3 separate regions of the Homo sapiens genome follow, and regions 1 and 2 are each reported to be linked to region 3. Evidence: microRNA targets listed by miRTarBase, many of them from high-throughput screens and not tested one by one. Region 3 holds a microRNA gene; each other region holds the end of a gene's coding sequence.

Region 1 (5,075 bases), not on the chromosome of region 3:
AAACAAACTGGAGACTAGGGAGTCCCTAAAGGCCTCACTCAGACTTACCTTCTAAAAGCTGGGAAAACTGAATTTTTTTTTATCCAAAATGATGTAAGCTAAAGTACAGGTAGTATATTAACTATTTTAAAAACCTAATGCTTTTTCTGCCTTTTCTTCTACCTCATTGAGTTTAAAGAGTTTTTATTAAAATTTTATTAAGAATTATGAGAAATTATTTAAAAATGTACTGAAAAGGCAATTAAAATTCTCTTCTCACAGATATATGTATATTTTACTAGCCTAACTACGTAATTTTTTAATATAAGAAAGATTTCATTTATCATGAGATCTGAAATTAGAGCTTATAATTATTTAAAGTAGTCAATAATGCTAGCGTTAATGATTTTAAATACAGGTTATAGGTTTCTAAATGACATAATTTACATTTTAATATACAGGTGCTTTTAAGAAGAATTAGGCATTAAGGCTGCCCTTAAGAATGTCTTTCATACTTAATTGTCTAGGGAATAAAAAACATAGGATAGAAAATTGGTTGGATTTCCTGTTTTTTGCTCTTCACTTAAAGATAACATTATTCTCTTTATCTCTGCAAAATAATTACAGATACAAGACCTATAACACAGTTTCTTCTTTTCACAGCTTCGGTGTTTACTTGCCTGGCAATAGCATTGGGATTTTATAGATTCTGGAAGTAGTATTAATGCTCATCCTGCTGTGGCTGTTGGCTTCTTAGAACACCAAACCGGGAGAGATTTACTTTGAACATTGTCAGTTGCAGCAAAAATTTACTACACAAGATTATTCGAAGTGTATACGGACTAAAAGAGGAAGTGTTTTAGAATGAGAAGAGATACTGTGTCTTTATTGTGTGTGTGTGAGTGCAGGTGTGTGTCTTTATTATATTGAAAAGCTGTCACTCAGACCTGGTTTGAGATAGAAGAGCATTTTGTCCTTTTGATAGTTAATAGAAATTGAACCAGAGTTTTCTTATGTTTGCTTGAACAGTTGTGTAAATCATACAGGATTTTGTGGGTATTGGTTGAATATTTGTAAACCATTCCCTAGCCTACATATTTATTACTGAATTAACTTTCCTGATAACCATTGCATAATTACATTTTTCTATAAAATGAAAGATTATTACAACAAAGTTGTGTGGGTTTTCAAAGTGACTTACCATATAGTTGGAGATTGATTTCTTTTTGGTAATGAACTAAAACAATAAATTTTAAAATGATAGGCCAGGCGCGGTGGCTCACACCTGTAATCTCAGCACTTTGGGAGGCTGAGGCGGGTGGATCACTTGAGGTCAGGAGTTCTAGACCAGCCTGGCCAACATGGTGAAACCCCGTCTCTGCTAAAAATACAAAAATTAGCCAGGCATGGTGGCACATGCCTGTAATTCCAGCTACTCGGGAGGCTGAGGCAGGAGAATCTTGCAGTGAGCCGAGATAGCACCACTGCACTCCAGCCTGGGTGACAGAGCAAGACTCCATTACCTAAATAAATAAATGTGTGCTTTAGTGCAAATTACAACACTTAATATGAAATCTGTAGAGTTGCTAAATATTGAGCTCTGATTATTACATGTATTTTTTAAATATTTGATACTCAAAAACCAGTTTATCCCTGCTTCTTAATGTAGTTTAAGTTAACCCATCTTAAATTTATTACATAAAACAAAGCTTTTCTTAATGACTTCAATTCAGCAAACATTGATATCTAGTACCTACTCTCAAGAAACTCATAGGAAAATTTAAATTCGTATTTTGTTTTGTTATTAGATATATTTTTTCTTACAAAGTAATATCTATTAGTAAATCATATGTAATTTCAAAGAAATTTTAAAATATCCTTTTCATCTTAGTTCTTCAGTCTTACCCAGATCAAGAAGACAAGACCAGAAAGTAAACATTTTGAGTTCATAATGCCTTGGTAATAGCTATAAAAGTTTGACAATCATTATTCAAAATAGCCTTGTCATTTGTTTAGCTATAAACAGGGAATCTGCAGTATAGAGCAGTCAAGAGATTGGTCCATATGGTCCAGTGAGTGAGAGTCAGGCTTTCCAACTATATTTTCCTCAAAAATCTAACTGCTGGTTTGTTTTCAAAAGAAAAACCTTGACATTATCCTGTTACATTCTGATTCATTTTTATCTCTATTGCCTAAGAGAGTTCTTAGTATATTATAGATTAATTTTCACTGAGTCAATTAATAAGTTACCATATATATTAAAGTCCACTGTAACAAAGTATACTGCATTTGTTCAGTTAACCAATATGACTGCCTGCTATATGCCAAACAGCATGCTAGTCCCTGTGTGCACAGAGATGAACATGGTTTCATTCTCATTGAATTGACAATCTTAAGGAGAGAGACATAAACAAGTAAATTATTGGTTTGTTAAGATTTAAAATATTCTAAAATATTAAGAGGGAATGCGTCTTTCCTCCATGTGAAGGAAGCTCCAGTAGCATAACACTGTCGTCACTCTTCATCCCCTTATCCACTCTGCCCTAGGTAAAGTGACTTGCCCAATTGTAAATCTGGAAGGAGAAACAAGGTGCAATTAGCCCACTTCCTCCCCACTCCTGTTTGGGACCAGCCCATCTGAAGAGACATTCATTCTGTTCTGCTTCTATGGGATCAGGCTCTGCCTCTGCAGGATGAGGCCTGGCCCAGTAGAGCAATGCTTGAGACAGGGTAAATCTGTCCAGTTCTAGAGTTCAGTGATAAGAAGCTTACTGGCCTTAAGATGAAACCCATATTCTCTTGCTGAGCACAGTGGCACACATCTATAGTCCTAGCTGCTTGGGAGGCTGCGGCAGCAGGATTGCTTGAGCCAAGGAGTTCATCAAGGCTAAAGTGTACCATGATCATACCTATAAATAGTCACTGCACTCCAGCCTGGCAACACATGAGACCCTGTCTCCTAAAAAAAAACTTCTCCAATAGTTTTATCAGCAAATAAAGGTGTTTTTTAGGCCTCTATATTAGTTTATTCATTCTTCATCTTAGTTATATTCACAACCCAGAATGGAAAGGAGGTATGCCATTTATTGGACCTTCTCAAGCCCCAACAAATAAATATACTTATTCCCAGGTTATACAGCCACTAAATATTAAATAGATCTGCGTTCTTTCTCATTGTAGGGGTTTAGCAAACAAAGTGCTTTGTATCCAATAACAGAAGAATAGAAATATGCATACCATACCCTGTCCCCATTACTTTTAGATCCTATATCCTTTCCATGAAACTTCATTTTGATGGTGGTTCTGGGGTTCAGGTAAATTTTTGTTTCAGTGATGGAAATATATGAAATAAGGATGAGAGGATTGTGTTTCTATATGCCTTAAAACTATACCTCTATTCCAGCACTTGCACTTCACTATGAAACAGCAATTATACGTATCTTTTTCCTACACTAAACTACAAGTTCTCAGAAGGCCTCTAGACACATGTGAGGTACTTGTTAAACGCCTGTGGAATAAATGATACTCATAAATCTCAGTTGACCTTAATCCAAACTTTTTAATATTTTAAATATTTAATTATGGGTATGCTGAAAATACTGCATTCATACTGAGTGAGCGTAATACACCTTTTAGGCATTTTCTATGAGTGGTAAGAAGCCTCCACAAGGATTAGCTACTTTCACCATGTTTATAGCCACAGTGTAGATCCTAACCTGCCTATCCATACTGCTTTGGTGACAAAATAGGCCAGGCAAGAGTATGTAAGGACTTGGCAAGAGTCAGGAAAAACCCTCACCTATTGGAAAAACAATTAAAAGCTTATAATGTTGTCAAACTTGAAGAATTTGGATATGTAACACTTGTTTATTTTTTAAGTATTTTTTAATATTTAAAAAAAGGGCAGTGGGAAAGGCTGTAGTCATTATCACTGAAACTACTGATTGCTATTTTGAAAAAAAATAGCTATCATTGACTATATGAGGGCAAATATGCTAAATAACATATATGTGCTCACCTATTTTCACAGCTCTCCTCTTAGGTAGATGGTATCCTCATTTTACAGCTGAAGAAACAAGTTTAGCCAAGTGAAGTAACTTGTCCACAGTCCCCCAGCAAGTAAGTCACAGGGACTCAAGTCTTTAACTCCAAATCTCACCCTCTCATGCTGTCACTCAATATACTAGTAGGGTTCAACCTGAGTACTCTTTCTCATGAGATGGACAATCTACTAAGTCATAGGAACAAAATAACTTAAATCTCTTTAATAACCTTTTTTTTTTGTTTCATTAACCTAAATGTGTCAATAATATAGGTATATGATTTATGAATAAATATACACAATTTGGGAATTGTATTATAATTTTAATTTAGCTGCTGTAACAAGATCCAGAATAGCAGTGGCTTAAATAAGATTAGGTTTATTTCTCTCTTACAGTCCAATGTAAGCATTCTAGGGCTAATATGTCAGCTCCATGGTGTCAGGGCCCTTGCTCCTTATTTTACTGCTCTGCCATCCTGGTGTTGCCCTCATTCACAAGGTCCAGTGGCTGACTCACCACCACATCCACATTCCAGAAGAAGAAAAGAGCAAGAGGTGGCATTATAGCCATGACCCTAAGGTTTTACGTAACATTTTTGCTCACATCCTTCTGAACACAACTTGGTCTCTTGGCTGCAAAGGCAAGCTGGGAAGTTAGTTCTTATCCTGCGCGGCCACAGACCACATAAATCCTTCCCACTACAGAAGAAGGGAGAATGGATTTTGGAGGACAACCAGGGAACCTCTGCCACAGGGTGTGTATGCTTTTATTACAACACTATTCTGGTGTTTTCTACCTCACTGGTACAGGAAGAAATTAGAGAAAACTGGAGCAAGTACAACAAACTATTTCCAGGGTTGGGATTAACTTTAGCATCAAGTTAGAGGGGAAAAGTAAGGCTGTCTGTAGTCCCAGAAGGGAAGATAAATGGTTTTGAAATCCCAGTAATGGTTAAGAGAATGCAGACTTTTGCTGCCAAGGTTGGAATCCCAGATCAGCATTATATAATCCTCGGCACAACTACTTTCTCTATAAAATATACCTACTTTATAT
Region 2 (5,075 bases), not on the chromosome of region 3:
TCAGAGAATAAAACAGATGCAACCCTGCCCGTGTGGAGCTCACAAAATTCGGACATGGGAAGAGAACCACATTCACCGGGTGCTGATGCTGCAGTGTGACCGTGTCCCCTCCAGAATTCACATGACATTGTAATTGTCATTGCGGTGGTATTAAGAGGTGGGGCCCCCTACTCTTGCAAATGGCTTAATGCCTCATAAAAAGGCAGCGGAGAACTAGCTGAGGCCTGTTGACCTTCCATCCCCTCCACCACGTGAGGATGCAGTGTTCCCAGCAGAAACTAATCAGCCCACACCTTTATCTTGGACTTCCAGCCTCCAGAACTGTGAGAAATGATGTCCGTTCTTTTTTTTTTTTTGAGATGGAGTCTCACTGTGTCACCCAGGCTGGAGTGCAATGGCGTGATCTCGGCTCACTGCAATCTCTGCCTCCCAGGTTCAAGCAATTCTTCTACCTTAGCCTCCCAAGTAGCTGGGACCACAGGCATGCACCACCACCCCCAGCTAGTTTTGTTTTTTTAGTAGAGATGGGGTTTCACCATGTTGGCCAGGCTGGTTTCAAACTCCTGACCTCAAATGATCCACCCGCCTCGGCCTCCCAAAGTGCTGGGATTACAGGCGTGAGTCACCGTGCCTGGCCTGAATGTCTGTTCTTTATAAACTACCCAGTCTTAGGTGTTTTGTCACAGCGGCCCATACTGCCTGAACCACGACTTTCTGCGCTAAATGCCGTGTTGAAGAGCCCAGCTCTGGCGCCGGAGGCTGCGCCCAAGGCAGGCACGGCTGTTCACGAGTTGCGTCACCTTGGGCACGTCATCACCTCTCTGAGCCCCGAAGCTCCTCGACAGAAGTGGAATCAACAGTGCCCATTTCATTCAAGTTGTCCGGGCGAAGAAAATGGAAAATCATGTCCCTTAAGCGCAATACCTGGTAAAAAATCTCACACTGAACTGCGGCCATGACAACTCCAGCATCACCCAAGGAGCCTGGACACCGAGAAGGGCAGAAGCCTGTGCGGCCCAGCCCCCGCAGCGCGGCGAGGAGGCTGCACCAACCCTTGGTCTTCAGTCACTCAACCTCCCTGGCCCATTCTGTTTCCCAACTTAAGAAACAAAACAAAACATAGGTATAGAGAAGGATTTCACTATCGAAAGAGAAAGCGCACTGACAAGTGATCACACTGAAGCCAAGCTGGAGAGCCACATCCTGGCTAAACGCAGGGCCATTTTCTATCCGGGTCACCTGCCATCAGGTGGAGTTAAGGCCGATATTGCCCAATCGTCCTAGTTTTCAAGCAGTTCCAGAATTCCTGTTATGTGAACTCACCTCGTTTAACACTTGCTGTAACTCTCAATAGAGGATGTGAAGCACGCAGCACACACGTGCAGCTGAATGCTGGCCAATGTGGGCCGCTGAGTGGGCCGGGCCCAGGCTCACACCAACCTGGCACCAAGAAGTCAGAGCTCATGAATGTCGCTTGTACCATGCTCCACTATAGCTACATCCCCTCACACTGCCGGTCAGGGAGACTGAGGCCAGTGAGGACCATGGGAAAGTGCTGTGCCATCTGGAAGGTGTACGCATCATTAACATTTCACGAAGCCTTTTCCACCCCTAAACCCCCAACTTCAGGCTCTGCACTGAGGGGTCCCCGGACCAATGTGTGGGTGACACTGGACGGAGCGGGTGAGCCTGTGCTTCTCTACAGCACCTCCATCTCTATGCATCCACACACGCGTATGAAGATACAGGAGGTAAAGTGTGGACCCCTGGGAAGGTCAAAGTCCTAGTGGAGGTGAGATAAAAATTAGGCTGTCCACTTCCAACTCCAAATCGAATTCTGAACACATGATGAATTTATCATTATATTTTCTATCTCCAAGATAAAGCATTCACAGCAATATGAATAGGTTAGTTTATTTTGAGAGAGAGGAAGACATCATTTGGGTTCTGTAAACATCAGTCACTTTATTATGCCTCTGTCTGGCTGAAAAACACCAGCTCCTGCTGACTCCACAAGGGCACGGCTGCAGAGAGTGCTGCCTGCCAGGTGTGAGGTTTCCAGTTAAAAGTTTCAGCAGGGACACCATTTGCTGGATGTGTTTAAGATTAAAATTGCTTCGTAAAATGTGATAAATAGGTTACTATACACCTTGGTCAATATAGTTAAAGCACCAGCAATCAAAATACACCGCTCCGGGCCGGGTGAAGTGGCTCACGCCCGTAATCCCAGAACTTTGGGAGGCCGAGGTGGGCAGATCACTTTTAGTCAGGAGTCAGAGACCAGCCTGGCCAACATGGTGAAACCCTGTCTCTACTAAAAATACAAAAAATCAGCCAGGCATGGTAGAGGTACCTGTAATCCCAGCTACTTGAAAGGGTGAGGCAGGAGAATCCCTGGAACCCGGGAGGTGGAGGTTGCAGTGAGCCGAGATCACACCACTGGACTCCAGCCTGGGAGCCAAAGCCAGGCTCCGTCTCAAAAAAACGAAAACAAAAACTAAACAAAAACAAAACACTGTTCCGAGAGTTCCATAAAACATAAGGAACGTAAGTCACACATGATTCTCACGAGCAGCCGACGTTTTCCACGTACATTTCAAAGGTGCTTGTGATAAAAAATAAACTTTGAATTTTAATTGCACGTTTATATCAAAACACTCACACACACACACACACACACACACACAATTCTGTATGTCTGTTAACAACATTGCTAAATTGCTGTGTAACTTCTACCTGGGTATAAAACAGTAGAACAATGTACCTTGGGACTCATCATCAGGCAGCTCATTGCCAGGGGCTGCTGCAGGACCACTCTAGGGACCCCAGGACCCTGCAGTCGAGCATCTCTGAGGGGTCCAGGTCCACCCTACAGCTCAGGGAGAAAATGACATCACTACTTGTCTTGAAATCTACAGAGGAACACCAACCACAGAATTAGGGTCTAGATTGGGTGCCTGTAGGTAACTCAGTCAATTAAAAACAGCTCTGAAACCCAGACAACCTGATTATGAAATCCTTACCTTATTTTGTCAAATGAGCAACACAGTATGAATAATAACTTCTCATTTTAAAACAGGTACCATGATTTAAAAAAAAAAAAAACTTGCAAGATTTCATCTTTACCAGCCCACGCTCTGGTTGGTGGGGGTTAAACTCCAAGGCGTCTCTGCTGCTACAGGAGTCACTACCCCTCAGCGTTGTCTTTGTACCACTTGCCACCAGATGGCACTGCCGTACACTTCGGTCTAGAATTTTTTTTTTTTTTTTTTTTTGAGAGAGAGTCTTGCTCTGTCACCCAGGCTGGAGTGCTGGAGTGCAGTGGTGCGATCTCAGCTCACTGCAACCTCCGCCTCCCGGGTTCAGGCAATTCTCCTGCCTTGGCCTCCCAAATAGCTGGGATTACAGGTGTGTGCCACGACACCCGGCTAATTTTTGTAATTTTAGTAGAGATGGGGTTTCACCATCTTGACCAGGCTGGTCTCGAACTCCTGGCCTCAAGTGATCCACCTGCCTCGGCCTCCCAACGTGCTGGGATTACGTCGGGTGTGAGCCACCCCACCCAGCTTAGAATTTCATACGCTGGGAAGCTTTAATAAGGAACAAATCATGTTATTTTCTATCTTAGCCCAATTCTCTCCAACTGAAAAGAATGTGACTTCTGAATAAGACACACGGCATATGAGTGTGCAGCTGGAAAGAGTCAACGCTGACCCACCCGCCCTGTGGGAGGCACTTCACTATGAAGCCATTTCCAGCATTCAAAGCCACCCCACTCCTCAACAGGTGTGACGCCCCGATGCCTGGACACCATGGACTCCTCTCCTAGATGCTTGACACGGTCCGGCGCGGCTAAACTGACAGAGCCTGCCAGACAGTCATAAAATTATAATTTCTTAAAAATACTTTGTAGCTACTTCAAAATTAATACTAATGCGAAAGAAAGTTAGTATTTCCCTTAGAAGTAAACACAAAACATTCACTGCCTCATTAATTCAAAAGCCATCATTCGCGGGGCTTCCCAGAATCGGTGTGCCAGCTCTGCTGCCGCCCCGGAGCCCCGGCTGGAGCAGCTATGGCCTCTTCTTCCGCAGCAGCTGCCCGTTGCCTTCTGGCCTGCTCTTGGCTTCTGGCTGTGCGAAGTTCCAGTCCACCGGATTGAGAAGCTGCTGAGTCTTCTTATGGGTCCAATATGGATTAATGATTAGCGTAAGCAGAGCCAGTCCGACAAGGAACAGTGTCAAATGAGGCAGATACAGGCTGCTGACCAGGCCGTCCCAGTGCCAGAAACACACCCACCACATGTGGTAGGTTAGAACCATGCGGCAGTGAAACATGTGAATCATCAGCCACTGGTTGAGCTTCCAAAACAGAGACTCGGACCAGCCCGCCTGCATGGAGAGAAGACAAATGCACAAGTCAATGCGAAACTGCCAAAATTCATTCTTCACATCACAAAAAGGTATTTGCTACCTTACTTACCAAACAAAACAAATTCATTTCAAAGCAAAAGAATTTCCTCCCCAGGGCTCTGCTCTCATTGGGACTTCATTCTGAAAGGAGGCCACCAGCTCTGTGGGCGCACCTGGGCCAGCAGGGCTGACCCTTGCCCGCTCATGCTGTTTTCCTGCTCCTCTTGCTCTTTGGCTTCTGCTCCCTAAAGCTATGATAAATTCAACCTTTCTTTCAGTATCCCTTCAATCTTTGTTTTATCTTGAATTTTCTCATATTAAGTAAATAAACAATACTTATTTGGCAAAACCAGACACAGGTATATCAAGCTCCCATACCTAGACCCTGGGAAGTGATGAGGTCATGGGGGTAAGGCCCCATGATGAGATTAGTGTCATAAGAAGAGAAAGAGACCAGAGCCTTCCCCTCCTCCATGCTAGGACACAGCCAGAAGGTGGCCATGTAAACCAGGAAGTGGGTCTTCACCAGACATGAATCTGCTGGTGCCTTGATCTCAGACTTGCAGCCTCCAAAACTGTGAGAAAGGAATTTCTGCTATTCCAGCTGCCTAGTCTATGGCAGTCTGCTGTGGCAGCCTGAGCTGACTAATACAGTATACCTCC
Region 3 (5,075 bases):
AACTCCCCAGGGCTCATGCAATTCTCATGCCTCAGCCTCCCGACTAGCTGGGACTACAGGTACACGCCACCATGCCCGGCTAATACCTCTGACAACCTTAAGGGATGTTGGTGAATGTCATTCCTCTTTCCTTCCCCAAGAAGAAACACTCAGGCACCAGTGCACATGGTTTCTTTGGCGGTGAGAAGACTGAACAGATCCGGTTCCCAACTCCAGCCTTCAGGGAGCCAGAGAGGAAGGGTGGCCTGCTGGGCAGGCCATCATCTCATTTTAGGATGTGGAGCTGTCTCTCTGGGCAAAGCCAGACTAAAGATGAACCCTGAAGGGCCCCGTTCCAAGGACAGCATCAGAATGTCATGGAGAGAATGAAATCAAGAATTCTGAATGCTGGCCTGGCCACTTTTCAACTGGGTGACCTTGGGAAGACTGGTCAAATCCACATTCTGGGCCTGAGCTCCCACTCGGGAAGAAACGATGCTAGCCCAAGAGGGCCTAGAAATCAATGGGTGCTCCACCGCGCCCCCTGCTGACTGGTGTCTGACCCACAGCCTCTCATGCAGGATCCCTCCTACCCCGATCCCTGCCCCACGGAAGCCCCTGGGCGTCACATCAGCTGTGCTCTGAATAGTAATGGAAGTAGCCAGTACTTCTTGAAGAGATTTAGTAACTGAATATTAACCAAGTAATGTTACCTGAAAAGTAAAGGGAATGTTTCCCCCACAAATCTTCAAAAAAGTCTTCTTCCAATTGCCAACGGCCAGTTTTAAGGGACTAGGAAACCTATCATTGATTCAGAAAGAAAATTTGACACAGGAAAATTTCATTTTGGGAAAATGCAAGTCAACCAAGAGTCAGCATGGGGACTCCCTTTTAAGGCCTCCTTTAAAAAAATCGTCCGTGCTTGCGCCTAGTAGGTTTTCAAAGATACTTGCTGAATGAATGAATGCACGAATGGACAGATGGAATGATGGAGGGATGGACATCAGCTGGGAAGGAAGAAATGAACTTCAGGGGTGGACTGGCCAGAGAGTGGCTGGCTAGTGTTTCTGGGCCCTGATGAGTCCCAGGATGCTCAGCTACTCCAGGAGACAGTCTTACTCTTAATCAGCCCCATCTTGCTGTCCACAAAGCTGGTTATTTTATTTTTGAGACAGAGTCTCACTCTGTTGCACAGGCTGGAGTGTGGTGGTGTGATCTCAGCTCACGGCAGCCTCCGCCTCCTGGGTTCAAGTGATTCTCATGCCTCAGCCTCCCGAGTAGCTGGAATTACAGGGGTGCGCCACCACACTCGGCTAATTTTTGTATTTTTAGTAGAGACGGGGTTTCGCCATGTTGCCCAGGCTGGTCTCGAACCCCTGACCTCAGGTGATCCGCTCGCCTTGGCCTCCCAAAGTGCTGGGATTATTTAATGTGCAATTGGAAGTGAGAGTTGGGGCAAGAAGTCAGGAGGAATGAATCTCTCCTCTCCACTTCAAAGATCCTGCATCCCCTTCTGCTGCCCCAGTCTTCTAAGTTTCCCAAGCACTTTGATATTCCCAGTGGAGATGAAGATCTGTGATTCAAGAAAACCCAGGCCAGATTAAAGGGCCAGGCACCAAGTCCGTGTGCCCAACACGGAACCACCACCTGACAAAGGCCCATTAGGATCGGGCCCCTGCTGCCAGCCTGGCTTCTCACATCTCCCAATACAATGCCGACAGATTGGTGGAGCCGGTTTCTTCCCCCTCCCCCGAACAATATTTTATGAGGAGTCTGTTTTATTAAAATATTTTCCGCTGGATGCTTCCTGTGTTTCAAGAAGTTGGTCCTGCCAGCTGGAGCTGATGACAGTTGAGAAAAACACATCCAAGTGCTGTTGTGACATGGCATTTGGAAGGGGCGGAGCACAGTGGGGGGGTGGGGAAGCAGCATGGGAAGAGGCGTAGAAAAACACCCGGGTTGCACTAGAAATACCACTGGTATTATGGGAGAACAACTTCCCCTTCCTCGTTAAACAAACGTGAACAGAAACCCTTGGAATGATGTCCTGAAACGTACCCCTCTGTCTCCTTGTGGGCCCGAGCCACTGTGACGTACGCTCACAGAAAACCTGTCATTTGTTTTCTATCACTGGTAGTTTGCCAACCACCAAACTGGCTCCCATGCTCCCACTGGTTTATTTCAACCCCAAATATTTTCCAACAGAAGTAGAAAACAGGGCATATTAAACAAACAACAAACCAACCAACCAACAAAACTAAAAGTGATACTGACACAGTTCAGGTGATAAGCAGGAAAATGGGATTATCAGACACCGGCTCTTTGGCACACACTGCGAAGTCAGCCCCTCTGCCCAGTCTGGAAAAGCAACGGCGTAAGTCAATGTGATGAAGAGGTCCAGCCTCTCGTCGGGAACTTGGCCGCAAAATGGGTAATGCTTTTCTGTAGGATGTGGAGTGTAGCTGGTGTTGCAATGGTGTTTCTGTGTAATGCAAGAATATTCTGGGTTTACATCTCAATATCAACAGGCCTGTGACCCTGTATCCTGGTACAGTGTCTAAAAGGTTTAGTCCAGTTTTAAAGAGGGGACTTCAAAGAAATGTGACAAATTTCATCCCCTTAAGGAGGAATCTTTAGTCCGAGGCACTCAGGTGCCATGCAGCGTTCTCTCCATAAGGGGGCAATCATAATCCATCCCTCATGTTCCCACCAGGCTATTGTGCAGAGCAAAAGTTAAACTTAACCCAGCTTCAGGAGTCCTCTCTTCCAAATGTCTAATAACTGAGCATCCTTGTGTGCAAGCGCACACGTGCACACACACACACACACACACGCACGCACACATATAATTCTGGAACTTTCTGGGCAAAGTCTGAGGGCTGTCTGGGTGGGCTGGTTCCTTAAAGACCGTACCCTCGCTATCAACCAGAAAATCCTGGAGAGCTGAAGTGAACTGCAACTTGGGTTAGGCCCCAGCTTGACAGCTCGAAATCATTTTTTTTCCTTCTTGCTCCAACTCTGACTGGGACCTGCCATGTCCCTTACCTTCTTTCCCATTTTCTGAGAGCCAGACAGACATGGGGGCCTCCCCCTTTCCACCCAAAGGACTTCAGGATCCCTGGGGTAGTTTTTCTGACTCCTCCAACAATCCTAGACCAAGACGAACTCATGCACTTTTTCAAGGCATCACAGGAAGTCAGCGTGTAGCCGCTGAGTTGTCTGGATAGAGACTGAGGGCTGTGCTCCTTTTGCGGACAAAGGGAAGCAGTGCTACCTTCTGCAGATGGCTCTGGTCTGGACTCGGGGCTATCTGCAGCCTTCTGCCTCACCCCACCACAGGCAGGTCCACTTCAGTCCACTGCTTGTCTTTCTGCCCCCCTCATTCACTTCATCTACCCCACGCCTCCTGAGCAGGTGACTCTAGGCCAGTCCTACGGGAGGTGCTGGGCATAACACCCAGGGAGCTCCGCGTCTCAGGGAGATGGGTAAGAAAAACCACAGTAACATAAATCCTCCGGCACAGGTGGGCAAAGGGTCCTGGTGGGTCTGGGGCAGTGGATGAGGGCAGTCCTGTATATAGGTTCTCGGCCATGGAGGCCTAGGAAGGTGGGTGGATCCAGTTCAACACTTGGCCTCCTTCACCAGGTTCTAACCCTCACCTACTGACTCGGCATCTTCAGCACAAGAGGCCTAGGACCTTCTTCTGAACCCAGCAAAGTATGCTTTGGACCCCACCCCTCGAAATCCAGCCCAAGTGCCCGGCTCCCTGGCCTCTGGGGCCTCCCACTGGTGTGACAACCAGACCGAGTAAAAGATCAAGTCCTGTTCCCTGAATGACCCCTTTGTGAAACACCCGCTGGGAGCCCCGGGGAAGCCTCACAAAGGCCGGGGCTACACGCTTGGGCTTCGCAAAGTGCTGGCTCCGCAGACACAGGGTTCTTACAGACAGAGGGGAGAGGCACAATACTCACTGCTCAGGGCTCGGCACAGACGTCCTCCGGCCTTCCACTGCGATGTTGCTCTTTGGTCTCTTAACAACATGTGGACGAGGTGGGCGCACCTAGAGGAGGTACAGGGGGAGAGCCCCAAGAAGGAGTGAGTTGGAAAAGCCATACAGGTACATTCTGAACATTTGGATAAACGGCCCCCCCAAAAAACGTTTAGGGATTTTCAAAGCTACAGGCTACAAAAGCCCAGCCTATCACAGAAACATCACCATCTAATAGGCAGCAGACAGACACATTAACTGGAATTCTGTGGCCTATTCAAATCAGAAGGGTGCTCCTGGAAAGCTCGGTTTCTTCATCTGCAAGATGAGGATAGTTCCATTGGCCTCCTTGCAGGGCTGTGGTGAGGGTCCAATGAGATGATGTCTACATAGGACCCGGAACAAAGAGGCCCTTATCAATGACAATTCCCTCTCATCTTCCTCTGATGCCCAGAAGCTGGTTTTGTAGAAAGAAAAGGTTGCGCTTACACTTGTTTTTAGGGTGAACATGCTTAGTTTGCTCTTTTTACAACAGAATCACAGGGTGCTTATTTTCCTCTCTAAATAAGAGAGGCATGAGAGAGTGCCACTACAAATCGTCTTTCTGCTTCCCAGAGCATCCCTGTGCTAGTCCTCCCAGCAGGGTTCAGCCTGGATGCTGCCCATCTTGTGTAGCTACATGCACTGAGCAGACCTAGTGGGAGGGTCTGCAGTGGGCACATCAGGAAGGACCCAACTTCCTAACCCCACAGCTGCTGCAGCAGCGGGATGGGTTTTTCTGACCCGCTGTCTCTGAAAGCGAACATGAGGGCCCACAGAGAAAGACACCCTCATCCCCTGCCAGAGTTCGTGATGGATGTTAGGCTGAGAATTTCTAGGTGCCCTTAGAAGGATACTCATTTGGTCCAGTCGACATTACATGGCTTTAAATTTGGCATGGCCATCTCTGTACACTCCCAGTGCCCGAGAGGGATGGGTTGAGAGCTAAGCTGAGAAAGTCTATCTCTGAATTTCATTGCTGATAAAAACAACCGAGCCTGCCGGGGCAGGGGGCTTGCTTTCTCCACGGATGGGATGCCACAACTGCTGAGTTTCCAGGACAAGACAG

What was found. Region 3 holds the annotated microRNA hsa-miR-601 (UGGUCUAGGAUUGUUGGAGGAG, at 3,116-3,137, opposite strand). A microRNA usually pairs through its seed, bases 2 to 8, with sites in the 3' UTR of a target mRNA and lowers its output. Matches are read on the target gene's strand: a 7mer-m8 pairs with bases 2 to 8, a 7mer-A1 pairs with bases 2 to 7 and ends in A, and an 8mer does both.
Region 1: miRTarBase lists CCDC90B as a target of hsa-miR-601. Seed matches in the 3' UTR shown: 8mer at 1,322-1,329.
Region 2: miRTarBase lists CLN8 as a target of hsa-miR-601. Seed matches in the 3' UTR shown: 7mer-m8 at 3,246-3,252 and 7mer-m8 at 2,942-2,948.

Annotation. Positions count from the first base shown.
Region 1 is chr11:83,257,534-83,262,608 of GRCh38, reverse strand. It overlaps CCDC90B (coiled-coil domain containing 90B), which reads left to right. Exons shown (of 9, transcript NM_021825.5): 9 at 643-3,528. The coding sequence ends at 698. It also overlaps a transcript of ANKRD42 not described here. Among named protein-coding and RNA genes, the nearest start is that of CCDC90B-AS1, 26 kb to the left of the region's middle. RefSeq lists a silencer at 4,408-4,702.
Region 2 is chr8:1,779,566-1,784,640 of GRCh38, reverse strand. It overlaps CLN8 (CLN8 transmembrane ER and ERGIC protein), which reads right to left. Exons shown (of 3, transcript NM_018941.4): 3 at 1-4,391. The coding sequence ends at 4,074. Among named protein-coding and RNA genes, the nearest start is that of CLN8-AS1, 18 kb to the right of the region's middle. RefSeq lists an enhancer at 429-928.
Region 3 is chr9:123,399,452-123,404,526 of GRCh38, forward strand. MIR601 (microRNA 601) reads right to left here and starts at 3,152; the gene lies at 3,074-3,152. It overlaps DENND1A (DENN domain containing 1A), which reads right to left. Exons shown (of 24, transcript NM_001352964.2): 21 at 3,951-4,039. RefSeq lists an enhancer at 3,155-3,776.